Linked DNA regions of Homo sapiens. The protein of the gene in region 3 interacts with the protein of the main gene of each other region in a pairwise test. Each region holds a gene or a part of one and is shown on either strand. Other genes may lie near its edges.

What was found. Proteins that work in one complex are often made in the same cells at the same time.
Region 1: the proteins of SPG21 (region 3) and CLDN22 interact in binary tests that used the Homo sapiens proteins (3 or more experiments, as listed by UniProt).
Region 2: the proteins of SPG21 (region 3) and RAD51C interact in binary tests that used the Homo sapiens proteins (3 or more experiments, as listed by UniProt).
Region 4: the proteins of SPG21 (region 3) and USHBP1 interact in binary tests that used the Homo sapiens proteins (3 or more experiments, as listed by UniProt).

The regions. Positions count from the first base shown.
Region 1 is NC_000004.12:183,317,600-183,321,730, reverse strand, and holds CLDN22 (claudin-22), read left to right. Parts: upstream 1-1,454; 5' UTR 1,455-1,512; coding exon 1,513-2,175; 3' UTR 2,176-3,631; downstream 3,632-4,131. UniProt on the Homo sapiens protein: Plays a major role in tight junction-specific obliteration of the intercellular space, through calcium-independent cell-adhesion activity.
Region 2 is NC_000017.11:58,733,357-58,736,111, reverse strand, and holds the end of RAD51C (DNA repair protein RAD51 homolog 3), read right to left. Parts: intron 1,995-2,755; coding exon 1,890-1,994; 3' UTR 501-1,889; downstream 1-500. UniProt on the Homo sapiens protein: Essential for the homologous recombination (HR) pathway of DNA repair. Involved in the homologous recombination repair (HRR) pathway of double-stranded DNA breaks arising during DNA replication or induced by DNA-damaging agents.
Region 3 is NC_000015.10:64,968,721-64,973,861, forward strand, and holds part of SPG21 (maspardin), read right to left. Parts: intron 1,503-5,141; coding exon 1,394-1,502; intron 643-1,393; coding exon 535-642; intron 1-534. UniProt on the Homo sapiens protein: May play a role as a negative regulatory factor in CD4-dependent T-cell activation.
Region 4 is NC_000019.10:17,254,746-17,258,245, forward strand, and holds part of USHBP1 (harmonin-binding protein USHBP1), read right to left. Parts: coding exon 3,467-3,500; intron 1,976-3,466; coding exon 1,726-1,975; intron 862-1,725; coding exon 640-861; intron 1-639.

The sequences.
Region 1 (4,131 bases), on a different chromosome or scaffold from region 3:
AACTGTGATGACAAAGACCTCTTTGTTTTGTAGCTAAACCTGTGATGCTCACGTTTTCTCATTCACTATTTTTCTACAGTAGGTAGACCCACTTCCCTCTAAAATCTGAATAATGAAGGAAAAATCTTTTATCTAAAAGAAAATGATTATGGTAAGCATTATACAGGTAGAAGTGAAACAAGCTTCATTGATCTGGTTATTGAAATTAATGTGGTGGCTGTCCAATACAGTCAGTTTCAAGCTTTAATGTGTAAATTTCATATTAGAAAGCTTTTTTCTGTTTTTCTTTTTTTTGTTGTTGCTGTTGGTAGTCAGAAATGATCTTTAGTTTCTGTTTCCTAAAGAAAAAAACTAACAATCTGAAAATTTTAAGTGTTCTACTTTAGCAAAACCACATGCTAAGCCAACCTCAAAGTGTTATTTCCACAACAATGACCTTTTTCTTCTTTGAACAGAAGTGGTTTGTTTTTAGGATATTACCAGGCACTCAGTGCGGCAAGATTTTATGAGGCTGAAGAGTTTTCAGTACCTTGTGATCCTCTCAGATTTAAAATGGTGGCCAATCTCTTCTCTCATCCTTTCCCTCAAAACCTTCGTATTAAAAAAAGAAAAACAATTCCAAAGACATTTTTCTTGATATCCTGATATTGTCAGGTCATTTGAATAAAACCTTTCCTTTGTTCAATGAAAAATCGCTAACATGGGGATATCTACTTTAGTGGTGAATAAACAGAAATGCTGACTCCAACCTGCAGAGTCCAAATGCTGAACTTTCCTCGGCACAGAAAGCATATATAAGAAAAAAAAGTGTTTATGCACACAAGCGTGAATTTGACAGAAAGGCATGCAGATAAATAAACTAGATCTGTAGTTCAGTATTGCTTCATATGCCATGTGGTATATGTAGCCTGAGGAATTTCTGAAACGCAGGAGTGAGTTAAGGTGTAGAGAGATTTCTGATAAGATTGATTTATTTGGTTAAGAAATACTTTTCTTAAACCTATTTTTAAAAAATAACACTCAGTATTACCATAACATGCACATTTGAAATGTGAGAACTATAAGAGATGAAAATCTGACAGGTGCAGTTAGTGAAACACAAAGCAGGAGGAGTTGAACCAAAACCATCAGTTAAACATTTTGCATTTAGACTTAATTCTTTGTTAGAAAGGTTGGGAATAACATGAAAGCCATTTTAACCTTGACAATGAAAGGAGATTATCACTTAATTATATTTCAGTGACAAACTGCTTTCTGTCAAATCCAGCCCACAGGACACAAACACAATCTTGGCCACACCTTGGCATTACTGGTTGGCGGCATTATTTCCCTATCCTTTTGTGAAACCCATTCAACATGGAATCAAACAATAGCAACTCTGGCAAGAATCCTCCTATATACACAATGAAGAAATATTTCTGAGTTTCATAAGTTATAACACAAGTGTCACACTTCTTTTCACAGCAACCGAAGGGCAGGAGTTAGTTTGGCTAAAGCTCTCAGGACATTATAATGGCTTTAGTATTTAGAACTGTAGCTCAACTAGCTGGAGTTTCATTATCTTTGCTGGGATGGGTTTTATCCTGTCTTACAAACTACCTGCCACACTGGAAGAACCTCAACCTGGACTTAAATGAAATGGAAAACTGGACCATGGGACTCTGGCAAACCTGTGTCATCCAAGAGGAAGTGGGGATGCAATGCAAGGACTTTGACTCCTTCCTGGCTTTGCCTGCTGAACTCAGGGTCTCCAGGATCTTAATGTTTCTGTCAAATGGGCTGGGATTTCTGGGCCTGCTGGTCTCTGGGTTTGGCCTGGACTGTTTGAGAATTGGAGAGAGTCAGAGAGATCTCAAGAGGCGACTGCTGATCCTGGGAGGAATTCTGTCCTGGGCCTCGGGAGTCACAGCCCTGGTTCCCGTCTCTTGGGTTGCCCACAAGACGGTTCAGGAGTTCTGGGATGAGAACGTCCCAGACTTTGTCCCCAGGTGGGAGTTTGGGGAGGCCCTGTTTCTGGGCTGGTTTGCTGGACTTTCTCTTCTGCTAGGAGGGTGTCTGCTCCACTGTGCAGCCTGCTCCAGCCACGCTCCCCTAGCTTCGGGCCACTACGCAGTGGCACAAACACAAGATCATCATCAAGAACTGGAGACGAGAAACACCAACCTGAAACACTAAGCCAGAAAGGACAAGCGTCTGCTGTTCAGGAGACGCTTGCTCAACACTGGATTTGGTAGGATGTCCCGCTCTAGTCATCTCACTGTGCTTTTGATTTTTGAAAATGCATCTTTTCCTGTGGCTATTAAACTATAGTTTCTTTCCAAGACTGGTAAACCATTTTTATCTTCTAGTCTGAGACCAAAATCAATCAAGACTGAATAGTAATGACACCCATTACTGTGGATGAGTTTTCTCAATTTTAAAATAGCGATTGCACAGAAGTGGTAAATAAAACATTAATCTCTATGTATCTTTGAAGGTATTATTCATATGGAGCGGAATCATTTGGCAAATCATTTACTTATTTCAGGTGTTTAAGATAACCTAGTATAATAAGCCTGAGGTCTTGTTGCATATTTATTTAAAATGCATGACGTCTTATTATATAAAATAATTACTAGCTCTTTAGAAGCTTCAGAGGTGAAAGGTGTAGACACATCATCTCCTTCTGAATCAGAGACCTCAGTGTCTCTATGGAACCTTTTTCAAAAGGCAGCCACATTCAGTCACGCCTTCTATACTGTCAGAGGCAGGAGGGCGATCTTGGGTTTTGGATGATTCAAGTAGACTCTGCCACACAAACGTGCTTCTGCATCCTGTGTTCTGTATTTCACGGGCAGCGTTTCTGGCTTCCCAGGCACTGAGCAGCCTGTGGGGGGCACGGCAGGGCAGGACTGGGGTGTGTGGGTAGATAACCTCCTGGGACGGCTGCCTCTCTGTGGAGCACACTGCCAGCCCAGGCGCAGCGACCACAGAGCACATATTCTGGAGCCCTTCATTTTATTTGCTCAATGAAAATACTTCGTCCTTTTTTATCAGCAATACATATAGTTCCAACAAGAACTATTCATCACAAACTGCCAGCCTGGGGATTTCTTCATGAAATATTTTGTATTTGCTTGGTACATGGTTCAAGGAAACTCTTGTGTTTGTGCCAATCAGGGAAATAAACTGAACAATAAACGACACTGAAATAGAGTATTAGGCAATATGTAGCTTTGTTTTTGCTTTTTTTTTTAAAAAAAACCACTGAATTTTTTTCCACCCACAAACACATGGAAAGTGCAGAAACCAGTTAATCTATGTGATGTATTTGCATACGTTTACAAACAAGACAAATTAAAACAGAAACATGTTCAGAATTTAACCTGATTAAATATTAAGTTCAGTCCTGAGCTTTTGATATTTAAGACAATATAGATAAAGCAATAGCAAAAAATTTTAATTTATTTGATTTGCATGCTACAGAGATTTAGCTAAACTTTGTTCATTTGGCTAGCAATATTCTTTTTGTACCTGTAACACTTAAGATTCTGATATACAAAATTGTAATAATATACTGATAATTCAAACTTGAGAACTAAATATTACATTCTTTTTACCCTGTGCGAATAAATTCTACCTTTTAAAAATAGTATTTATAATATTAAAATTCATATTTGTCCATATGGTTTTGTGATCAAGTTATTAAAATGTTTTGTCACTGTGAATCATTTGGGTTAGTACAAATATGACAAGATTATTAAAAGCTGCCTATAAATACATAACACTATTGCTGACTTTTAAAGTGTAGAAAAAGGATTATATTAAAATAAGTTCATCTCTCATGTTAGAAATGAGGAAATTTTGTGAAATACAACAACCAAAAGCATCTTGGTCACAACTGCTAACTACCAGCCTGAGACAGATTTTATTCTTTAATACTTGTCTGAAACTTTTTGTATTACAAAAAGTCAACAGCTAATCTGATGAAAGACTTATAAAGCTGTAAATATTCCAATATAGTCTCTTCTGTGTCAAATATTTAAAATGGCCAGAATCAAACTATATATTAAACAGAACATAAATAAGACTGTAAATAAATAAATGAAGAAAATAAAATCGTACGGAACAACTACACATAATTCTATAGAC
Region 2 (2,755 bases), on a different chromosome or scaffold from region 3:
TGAAATAATCTGTACAATAAACCCGTGACATGAGTTTACCTACGTAACCAACCTTCACACGTACCCCTGAACCTAAAATAATAGTTTAAAAATAAATATATAAATATGGCTGGGCGCGCAGTCTCACACCTGTTAATTCCAGCACTTTGGGAGGCAGAGGTGGGCGGGTCACTTGAGCCCCAGGAGTTCGCGACCACCCTAGCCAACATAGAGAAACCTGTCTCTACTAAAATTACAAACTATTAGCTTGGCACGGTGGTGCATGCCTGTAATCCCAGCTACTTGGGAGGCTGAGGCACAAGAATCGCCTAAACCCTGGAAGCAGAGGTTGCGGTGAGCCAAGATTGTGCCACTGCACTGCAGTCTGGGTGACAGAGCGAGATTCTGTCCCAAAATTAATTATTTTTTCCCCCACAGGGAACCAAAGTAAATTTTGTGAGTAAGTTGAAAAGTACTAAGAGCCAAGTGTGAAAATATTTTTAGGTGATTTTGAAACCATCGAGAATTGAAATCTTTAATTTATTTAAGCAAAGTTAAGATTATTCAAAGAAAAATGTCAACATAACAACTAGAATTCTAGAATGGATCATACCGTGTTTCAAAATATAGAAATGAGGCCAGGTGTGGTGGCTCACATCTGTAATCCCAGCACTTTGGGAAGACAAGGCAAGAGGATCGCTTGAGACCAGGAGTTTGAGACCAGCCTGGGCAACATAGTGAGACCTTGTCTCTACAAAAAAATCCAAAAATTAGCAGGGCATGGTAGTGCCTCCCTGTAGTCCCAGCTACTCAGGAGGCTGAAGTGAGAGGATTGCTTGAGCCCGGGAGGTCGAGGCTGCAGTGAGCTATGATCATGCCACTGCACTCCAGCCTGGGTGACGGAGTGAGACCTTGTCTCAAAACAAAAACAAAAACGTAGCAATAAATGATTGTGAGCTTATCAACCTATTCTGGAAGACATATGTTCCAAACAATCTCTAGATGAGATAACAGCTCCAAAGTCCTCCCTTTAACATTATAAAATGTCATTAAAAGCTAAACAAATGGCTTAGATTTTAGGATTGAGGTCACTAAAATCAGTTTGGTCACCTAAAATTTGTATCTTACCTATAAAACTGAACAGAATAATATGCTGACTCATGGTGCTGGCTTCTCTTTTATAATTATAAAAGCGGGTAATTTTAAAGAATTATCAAATTTACATTTAAAAAGAACATGGCTGGGCACAGTGGCTCACGACTGTAATCCCAGCACTTTGGGAGGCAGGGGCAGGCAGATCACCTGAGGTCAGGAGTTCAAGACCAGCTTGGCCAACATGGTAAAACTCTGTCTCTACAAAAATACAAAAAATTAGCCAGGCACGATGGCAGGTGCCTGTAACCCCAGCTACTCGGGAGGCTGAGGCAGATGAATCGCTTGAACCTGGGAGGCGGAGGTTGCAGTGAGCAGAGATTGCGCCATTGCACTCCAGCCTGGACTACAGAGCGAGAATCCATCTCCAAAAAAAAAAAAAAAAAAAAAAACACAATAAGAATATGATATGTTTCTTCCTAAGATTTTATAGGCAACTGGGAAAGAAAGGGGTGAAAACAGTATGAATGGTAAATTCAGACTGGCCACATGAGATCAGCTTTCCACATTTGTGAAATATAATAATCATCTCTACTGAATGTTACTGAAAATGAAAACAGGGTAAAATATAATTGCAGAATACTGCTTTAGAAAAACTTTCACAGAATCATATTTAGGTATTTTTCCCATTCACTTCATATGATCTGGATTCATTCATGCCATAGTGTGTTTATTTATACTTTAAGGTAACAAGTCCACTTGTACACATTGATTTCACAACATCAATAAATTTGTACACTTTGAGATTTGTTTCTGGGTTATAATTCTTCCTCTGGGTCTCGTGACCGTTTCCGGGTGCTCAAGGAACCTTCTGTTTGCAATGAACATGCAGAAGTAACAACAGTATCTCTAAATCCCTGAGGCTGAAAGATAAAAAATATATATACAAATATGCTTTAAGAACATTTGAAGACTGATCTTAGAAATATTTTTAAGTAACTAATAAGAAAGCTACTTTATTCTAGGGCCAGGCGCAGTGGCTCACACCTGTAATCCCAGCACTTTGGGAGGCTGAGGTGGGCAGATCATGAGGTCAGGAGTTCAAGACCAGCCTGGCCAACATGGTGACCCCTATCTCTACCAAAAATATAAAAATTAGCTGGGCATGGTGGCACACACCTCTAGTCCCAGCTACTCTGGAGGCTGAGGCAGGAGAATCGCTTGAACCTGGGAGGCGGAGGTTGCAGTGAGACAAGATTGTGCCACTGCACTCTAGCCTGGGCGAAATAGTGAGACTTCGTCTCAAAAAAAAAGAAAGTTCTTGAGATAGAAATTTATCAACCACTGTGAATGAAGAGAATAAACCTCATGGATACGTGCCAAAGCCCGGGCTATATTAAGAGTATTTTATATATACTTATTTATACCCTTGCATACACACGCACAGAAATAACATTGCATTATAAAAATGTTCTCTAAAGGTCAATCCTAACAAACTTTACGATAGCTTTGTTAGAAGTAAAAGGAAATAACCTAAGTCTTAGGTACTTTACAGATTTATTTTCATAATTAAATACTCTAAAGTTTTCCAACTATGATATTTCTCTCTCTCTTTTTTTTCCCCAACTAGGATATTTCAAGTACACCTGGGTACTGCAAAGACTAAGTGGATAATTCAGTTTCA
Region 3 (5,141 bases):
CAAGCTTTTGTGGTAATTAAACTATGGAATTCTTGATTCTCTACCCTTGTTACCCTTGTGAAGCACCTTCTCTTTGCTGCCCATATATGTGCAATATATGGTGCAATATCTATTGATGAGAACAGCAAAAATACATCAAATGGGTAGACTCCCTTGTTTAAATTTATTTTGATTCATTTTTATTTTTATTTTTTTTTAATAAATACAGACAGGGTCTCACTATGTTGCCCAGGCTGGTCCTGAACTCTTGGACTCAAGCAATCCTCCTGCCTCAGCCTCCCAAAGCGCTGGGATTACAGGCATAAGCCACTGTGCTCGGCCTATTTTGATTTCAATGGTGTTATTCCTGCCAGAAAGAAATCCAAGATAAGCAATAAACAGATTATTTTGGAATTGAGAAAGCTGGAGGGTAAAAACAAAAGCCAAGGCAGCATTTGAAGAGGTACATTGAAAGTTATCAAATAGTTTTATAGGAGATCTTGACATACACATTTTAAAAAGTAAAGCAGCTATTTTACTTAAAAGGAAGCTTACATCCATAATAGTTACAGGTATGTCCCGAATTTTATGAGGTTCCACATAAGAATTTTGACAATTCAAGGTAAGTCTTGAAGCCAGTTCACTCTGACCCAAACTTTCTAGCTGCAGGAAGAAACACAGGTAAAGTTTTTGAAATAATTTTGTTTTTCACATTTACATTAAATCCACAGACAACATTTGTGCTTATAAAGGTGGTATCATCTGTGGTGGGGCCAGAAAAGTCATCAGTGAGGAACCACAACTTAGGTGAGAGACCATGAACTGGGCTTCTCAGGAGGTTGTGGCATTTTTCTATTCTGGAAACCTGGGTACAAACCAATGAAACCCGGCCTTCTACAGCCCTCAGCCTACACTGCCTACTCCAGCCAGGTGCCCATGGGCAGCAAGCCAATTCCTACTGCTCAAAGGTGACAGATATATGTTTTTGTTTTTTTTTTTTTTTTAAGATAAACCTTTAAGGGATCTTAAAAGAGATTTGAGAAATCATCTAGCCCAGCAGTTCCTAAATGCAAGCCAACAGACCTGGTTCATCAGATTTACCTGGTGGGTAGAGGAAAAGTGTGAAGTAAAAATAGATTCCCAGATCCCATGCCCAGGGATTCCAGATGGATGATCTGCTGTGAGGCCTTACAATCTGTATTTTTGAAAGCTCCCCTAAGTGATTTTGATGAATAGCTGGTGGGAAGCACTGATGTAGGCAAGCCCTTACCAGCAATAATATCTGCTCAGATGTATTACTCTGCTTAGCAAATACCTCTTACACATACTTGTGAGACAGATCTATCTTCTGGAACCAAGTAGATGTGAAAATTCCCAATACAATGTGTCCCCAACCCAATGTCATGATCCTTACCCTGTCTACCATGAAATCAATGGCATCAGCCATCATAGGGTCCACCGGGCCAGATGAAAAATTTCCAAGAACTATTTTTTTGAGCATAAATGCAGGCATCAGCCAAAAGCTGTAAAACACAAAGACCTTATAATTTAAACTTCCAAGACTACACATGGCAAATATTCATTCAACATTAAAGCTTTGTATTAGCTTGGGATCTAGAAATAAAAAGTCCTAATCCCCTCCTCCAAAGAGCTCAGCATCTAGTTTTTACACACACTTTCCCAAGCTTCCAAAGAGTTATGGCTTCATATAATTAAACTTTTATTTGAGGATTTAGGATAATTATAAGAGATATTTCAAAATACCTTTACTGAGATAGACATTCTGATGAGTCCAAGATTGTTTTTTTTCTCTAATTGGCCCTATTTCCAAGGATTAAACTATTTCTTTTGGAAAACTGAATATTAAGAGAAGTATTCTTTCCTTCTGGTTGATATTATGTTTTTATCGATTGATATTTCAAAACAGATTTCAAAATACCAATATGAAAGCTATTGCACCTCCCCAAATTTGCTACTATTAGATTCAACTTGGCTAATTCAAGGCAAATTGATATTTATAGATTTATTTTTTAAATTTATTATTGTTATTATTTTTTGAGACAGAGTCTCAGTCAGTTACCCATGCTGGAAGTACAGTGGCATGATCTCGGCTGGGTGCAACCTCTGCCTCCCGGGCTCAAGCAATTCTCATGCCTCAGCCTTTCGAGTAGCTGCGACTACAGGCACATGCCACCACGCCCGGCTAACTTCTGTATTTTTAGTAAAGATGAGCTTTTGCAATGTTGGCCAGACTGGTGGTGAACTCCTGGCCTCAAGTGATCCACCCACCTCAGCCTCCCACAGTGCTGGGATCACAGGCGTGAGCCACTCCTGGCCTCTTTTTATTTTTTAATTAAAAAATTTAAAAAAAAACTTTTAGAGACAGGGTCTCACTCTGTTGCCCAGGCTGAAGTGCAGTATTGTGATCATAGCTCACTGTAGCCTCAAACTCCTATCAAGTGATCCTTCTACCTTGGCCTCCCGAGTAGCTGGGACTACGGGCTCGTACCACCAGGCCTGACTAATTTTTTAAAAATTTACTGAGCTGGGGGAGCCGGGGCCAGGCACGGTGGCTCATGCCTGTAATCCCAGCACTTTGGGAGGCCAAGGTGGGCAGATCACGAGGTCAGGAGATTGAGACCATCCTGGCTAACACGGTGAAACCCCGTCTCCACTAAAAATACTAAAAATTAGCCGGGCTTGGTGGCGGGCGCCTGTAGTCCCAGCTACTCGGGAGGCTGAGGCAGGAGAATGGCGTGAACCCAGGAGATGGAGCTTGCAGTGAGCCAAGATCGTGCCATGGCACTCCAGCCTGGGCGACAGAGCCAGACTCCGTCTCCAAAAAAAAAAATTTACTGAGCCAGGCGCAATGGCTCATGCCTGTAATCCAGAACTTTGGGAGGCCAAGGTGGGTGATCACAAGGTCAGGAGTTCAAGACCAGCCTGGCCAAGATGGTGAAACCCCGTCTCTACTAAAAATACAAAAATTAGCCAGGGGCGGTGGCCAGCGCCTGTAATCCCAGCTACTTGGGAGGCTGAGGCAGGAGAATCACTTGAACCTGGGGGGCAGAGGCTGCAGTGAGAACGTGCCACTGCACTCCAGCCTGGGCAACAGAGCGAGACTCCCATCTCAAAAAAGAAAATTTTTTTTCTGTAGAGACAGGATCTTGCTCTGTTGCCCAGGCTGGTCTAGAACTCCTGGACTCAAGCAATGCTCTTACCTCTGCCTCCCAAAGTGCTGGGATTACAGGTGTGAGCCACTGTGACTGGTCAGATCTTTACGGATTTCTATATATGATCTTTAGTTTATATTTATTCCATTAATTTCAACTGTTAAGAGCCATCATGGAGGGCAAACACTAATTTCTGTAAACCTATGACGAAAATTACTTAGATGAGGTGCAAACTACCTTCTGATGCTTATTACCACTGGGACAGCCTTGCTGGAAGTTGAGCTTCCCTCAAAAGGACCACTAGGTCACCTTCCAGTTAACTTTCTAAGTTCTCTCCCAGCCCCATCACTTTCTTATCTTTTGAAGGTGATGAGGTCTAAGTACGCTCTGTAAGGGGTGGACCCTGTTGACTTTGCTCACTCCTGGATCCTCAGTGTGTGGCACACAGTAAGCACTCAGATATTTGACAATAAGCAGCTGATGTGCCAGAGCACAAACTGAATGGGGGCTGTCTTGGCATTCTAACAATTAGAACAGCAATAAAAATCACCAAAAATAATGAGCATTATTTAGTGCATTATCTGGACGGGAAGGATTTGTAAAGTAGCTAATGTATACAAGAAATTGTTGCATGAATGCTGAGTAATTACTAAGATAACATCAGAAAAACTAAAAAATAGCTGGGCACAGTGGCTCATGCCTGTAATCCCAGCACTTTGGGAGGCTGAGGCGGGCGGATCACGAGGTCAGGAGATCGAGACCATACTGGTGAACACGGTGAAACCCCGTCTCTACTAAAAACATAAAAAATTAGCCAGGCATGGTGGCGGGCGCCTGTAGTCCCAGCTATTCGGGAGGCTGAGGCAGGAGAATGGCGTGAACCTGGGAGGCAGAGCTTGCAGTGAGCTGAGATCGTGCCACTGCACTCCAGCCTGGGCGACAGAGCGAGACTCCATCTCAAAAACAAACAAACAAAAAAACAAACAACAACAAAAAAAACTAAAAAATATCAGAGTGCAATTTTAAGTAGATGTGAAAACGATATTTCCCTATACATTATTTGAAAACACTGATCATACAGATGTGTTTACTCACTGGGCTTTTTTTTTGAAGTAGGGTCTTGCTCTGTCACCCAGCCTGGAGTACAGAGGCACAGTTGTGGCTCACTGCAGCCTTGAACTCTTGGGCTCAAGCGATCCTCCTGCCTCAGCCTCCTGAGTAGCTAGGACTGCAGGTGCATACCATGATACCTGGCTAATTTATTATTATTGTTATTTGTAGAGATGGGGTCTCACTATGTTGCTCAGGCTGGTTTCAAACTCTTGGCCTGAAGTGATCCTCCTGTCTTGGCCTCCCAAAGTGTTGGGAGTACGGCATGAGCCATCACACCTGGCCACTGGGCTTTATTTTAAGGCTAGAGCCTCGCCTTGCCAGCAATGAAAGAAGTGCACAGTAAGCCAGCTGTATGGCATCATAGATACCTACCAATTACTTAAAATGATAAAATCAATGAAAGGATGGCTCCTAGGAAACAAGTACCCCACTGGCTGCACCCAAAGCATTTCCACCATTTTGTTTTTGGTTTGTTTTTTTTTTGAGATGGAGTTTCGCTCCTGTTGCCTAGGCTGGAGTGCAATGGCGTGATCTCGGCTCACCACAACCTCCGCATCCTGGGTTCAAGTGATTCTCCTGCCTCAGCCTCCTGAGTAGCTGGGATTATAGGCATGTGCCACCTTGCCCAGCTAATTTTGTATTTTTAGTAGACAGGGTTTCTCCACGTTGGTCAGGCTGGTCTCGAACTCCCGACCTCAGGTGATCCGGCCGCCTCGGCCTCCCAAAGTGCTGGGATTACAGGTGTGAGCCACCGCACCCAGCCTCATTTCCACCATTTCTATCTTTTGGAAGAACAGACTAATATCAAGGGTCATGATGTGCAGAACATCTGTTGACAGACCAAATGCTCTATTCTTTCCATTTGGAGAACATATC
Region 4 (3,500 bases), on a different chromosome or scaffold from region 3:
GGTTCAAGTGATCCTCCCACCTCAGCCACCCGAGTAGCTGGGACCACTGTGATAAGGGAAATAAATAACAGGAAACCGCATCTGAAGTCACTCCAGGAGGGCTTCCTTGAGGAGGTGATGTCTAAGCTGAGATCTACAGGAGGTCGAGGACTTTATGACACAAAGAGGGAAGTGACCGGTGTTCCTGGCAGGGACACAGAATATACAAAGGCTTGGAGGTAGGAGAGATGATTTAAAGAGCTGCATTAAGGACAGGTGCGGCGACTCATGCCTGTAATCTCAGCACTTTGGGAGGTGGAGGCAGGCGAAACATTTGAGGCCAGGAGTTCGAGAGCAGCCTGGCTAACATGGTGAACTGCAACTCTACAAAACTGCATCTCTACAAAACATACAAAAAATAGCTAGATGTGGTGGTGCGTGTCTGTAATCCCAGCTACTCAGGAGGCTGAGACAGGAGAATCTCTTGAACCTGGGAGGCGGAGGTTGTGGTGAGCCGAGATTGCAACATTGCATTCCAGCCTGGGCAACAAGAGCCAAACTCCGTCTCAAAAAAAACAAAAAAAAAAAGGCTGTGATTGACAAGGGCTATGTTCTCATTAGTAAGCTACTCCCCTACCAGGTTCAGGCAGGGCAGCTCACCTGATACCACTCTTCCTCGTCCCCGCTGCTGCCACCTCCGCTGCTATGTCCGCCACTGCTGTTTGCCCCACCAGCCTGGAGCTCTGCCCGTTCCCACCGCAGCTGCTCCAGCAGGAGCACGTGAGCTGGACCCAGGGCTCGGAGGGCAGCCTCCCGCAGCTCTAGGCCCCGCTTCTCACGCCGCACCAGCTGCAGCCGAAGCATCAGGTCCGCCAGGGCCTCCTGTGGGACCAAGGAGAGGGGAGAGAATTTATGCTTCTACGGTCAACTGCAGGGAAACTGAGGCCCCAAGAGGCACCCACTGAGGACTATTCAGACAAAAACTGTGACTTTTGGCCAGGCGCAGTGGCTCATGCCTGTAATCCCAGCACTTTGGGAGGCCAAAGTGGGTGGATTACCTGAGGTCAGGAGTTCGAGACGAGCCTGGCCAACATGGTGAAAACCCGTCTCCATTAAAAATACAAAAATTAGCCAGGTGTGGTGGTGCACACCCGTAATCCCAGCTACTTGGGAGGCTGAGGCAGGAGAATCACTTGAACCCGGCAGTGGGGCAGAGGCTGCAGTGAGCCAAGATAGCGCCACAGCACTCCAGCCTGGGTGAGAGCAAGACTCCGTCTCAAAAAACAAACAAACAAACAAACAAACTAGGACCTTCACCATTCACCATGTTCTTGTGAGGTGGAAATATCTTCCTCCCATAAAAGCTACAGCTGTAGAAATGGCATTTCCTAGAGGGGCAAGTAGCTTACATAGGTCAAGTATTAGTTCTGTCAAAGCTTCTGGAGTTTCTCTAACTCCAGAACCTCAAGTTTTTCATGCCAAGCTACAAACCCAAGATTGTGTTCTTTGCTCCCATCTCTTCCCATAGGAAGGGCATTTTGGAGAGCCAGATTTGTAGTCTAATGAGAAACTGAACCCCAGAAAACAAACTCCTATTAATCCCTCAAAACCCCAGCTCCAATTCTCCCTTCACAATGCCTGCACTCAGCCCAGCAGAATTCTCCTTTGCTCCTTGGTCCCCCGACCTCAGTAAAGGATTTTGTCCCACCAAGAAAGACTGACACAGTGGCCACAGCCCATTTGTACCCTTGCGGCCACCAGGTCCTGCTGAATTTGTGTCTTCTCCAGTCGGGGAAGAGCTGGGCCAGCCTGGGTCCCCAGAATGGCCTGCACCATGGCTTCTGCACGGGGCACAGTGGGCATGGGTGCCAAGGTGGGGCCAGGCTCTGAGAGAATCTTCATTAGAGAACGGCGCTCCTGGAGACGCTGGACATAGCTTCGGAGCTGGAAAGCCACTTCCTGTGGGGTGGGCTTATCCACACTGCTGCCTTCAGGGCTATAGAAAACAGAAAAGGTGCCTATGTCAACACTGGCAGGCATAGGTGGGTTAAGTTCATGCCAATCCTGGTAGGGTCCATCACCTTCCATCTCACTGGCCACGATGGAATCTATGCCATCTTTGGTGGTCCCTGTCACACCAACATACCCCACTAGGCACCACCTTCCATCAAGACCACATGGTGGCCAGGTGCGGTGATGCATGCCTGTAACCCCAGCACTTTGGGAGGCTGAGGTGGGAGGATTGCTTGAAGCCAGAAGTTTGAGACCAGCATAGGCAACAGAGTGAGAATCCGTCTTTTTTTTTTTTTTTTTTGAGACGCAGTCTTGCTCTGTCGCCCAGGCTGGAGTGCAGTGGCATAACCTCGGCTCACTGCAAGCTCCACCTCTCGGGTTCACGCCATTCTCCTGTCTCAGCCTCCCAAGAAGGTAGGACTACAGGCGCTTGCCACCACGCCCGGCTAATTTTTTTTTTTTTTTTTGGATTTTTAGTAGAGACGAGGTTTCACCGTGTTAGCCAGGATGGTCTCGATCTCCTGACCTTGTGATCTGCCCACCTCGGCCTCCCAAAGTGCTGGGATTACAGGCGTGAGCCACCGCGCCTGGCCGAGAATCCGTCTTCATAAAAAATTAGCTGCGGCCGGGCGCAGTGCCTAACGCCTGTAATCCCAGCACTTTGGGAGGCCGAGGCAAGTGGATCACCTGAGGTCAGGAGTTCGAGACCAGCCTGACCAATATGGAGAAACCCCGTCTCTACTAAAAATTCAAAATTAGCCGGGTGTGGTAGTGGGAGCCTGTAATCCCAGCTACTCGGGAGGCTGAGGCAGGAGAATCCCTTGAACCCGGGAGGCAGAGGTTGCAGTGAGCCGAGATCGGACCATTGGACTCTAGCCTGGGCGACAAAAGTGAAACTCTGTCTCAAAAAAAAAAAAAAAAAAAAAAAAGACAGGGTCTCACTCTGTCACCCAGGCTGGAGTGCAGTGGTGCAATCTCAGCTCACTGCAGCCTCCACCTCCCAGACTCAAGGCATCCTCCCACCTCAGCCTCCCAAGTAGCTGGTACTACGCGGGCACACCACCATGCCCAGCTAATTTGTTTGTAGTTTTGGTAGAGAAGGACTTTCGCCATGTTACAAGGGCTGGTCTTGAACTACTGAGCTCAAACGATCTGCCTGCCTCGGCCTCCCAAAGTGCTGGGATTACAGGCTTGAGCCACTGTGCCCGGCTGTGGGTGCCAGTTTTAACCAGTAGGCATTGTCATTCATCTTCATGCCAACTGCAATGTCTGTCAACCACCATGCCAACTTTGTCAAGTAGCAACAGGCCAACTGCAGTTGAGCCTCATGTCAACCAACTACAGTGAGCTCCATACCGACCTTGCTGGACACAGCCACACCAAGCCCCGAAACGTGGTGAGCTCTGGGAGCCCCATCCCCCAGTCAAGACCCCACTCCTCAACCAGGCCAGTTCCCAGGGTTCCAGGGGGGTACCTTGGCTGTGGATTCTGCTGTGCTCCTGCATCCA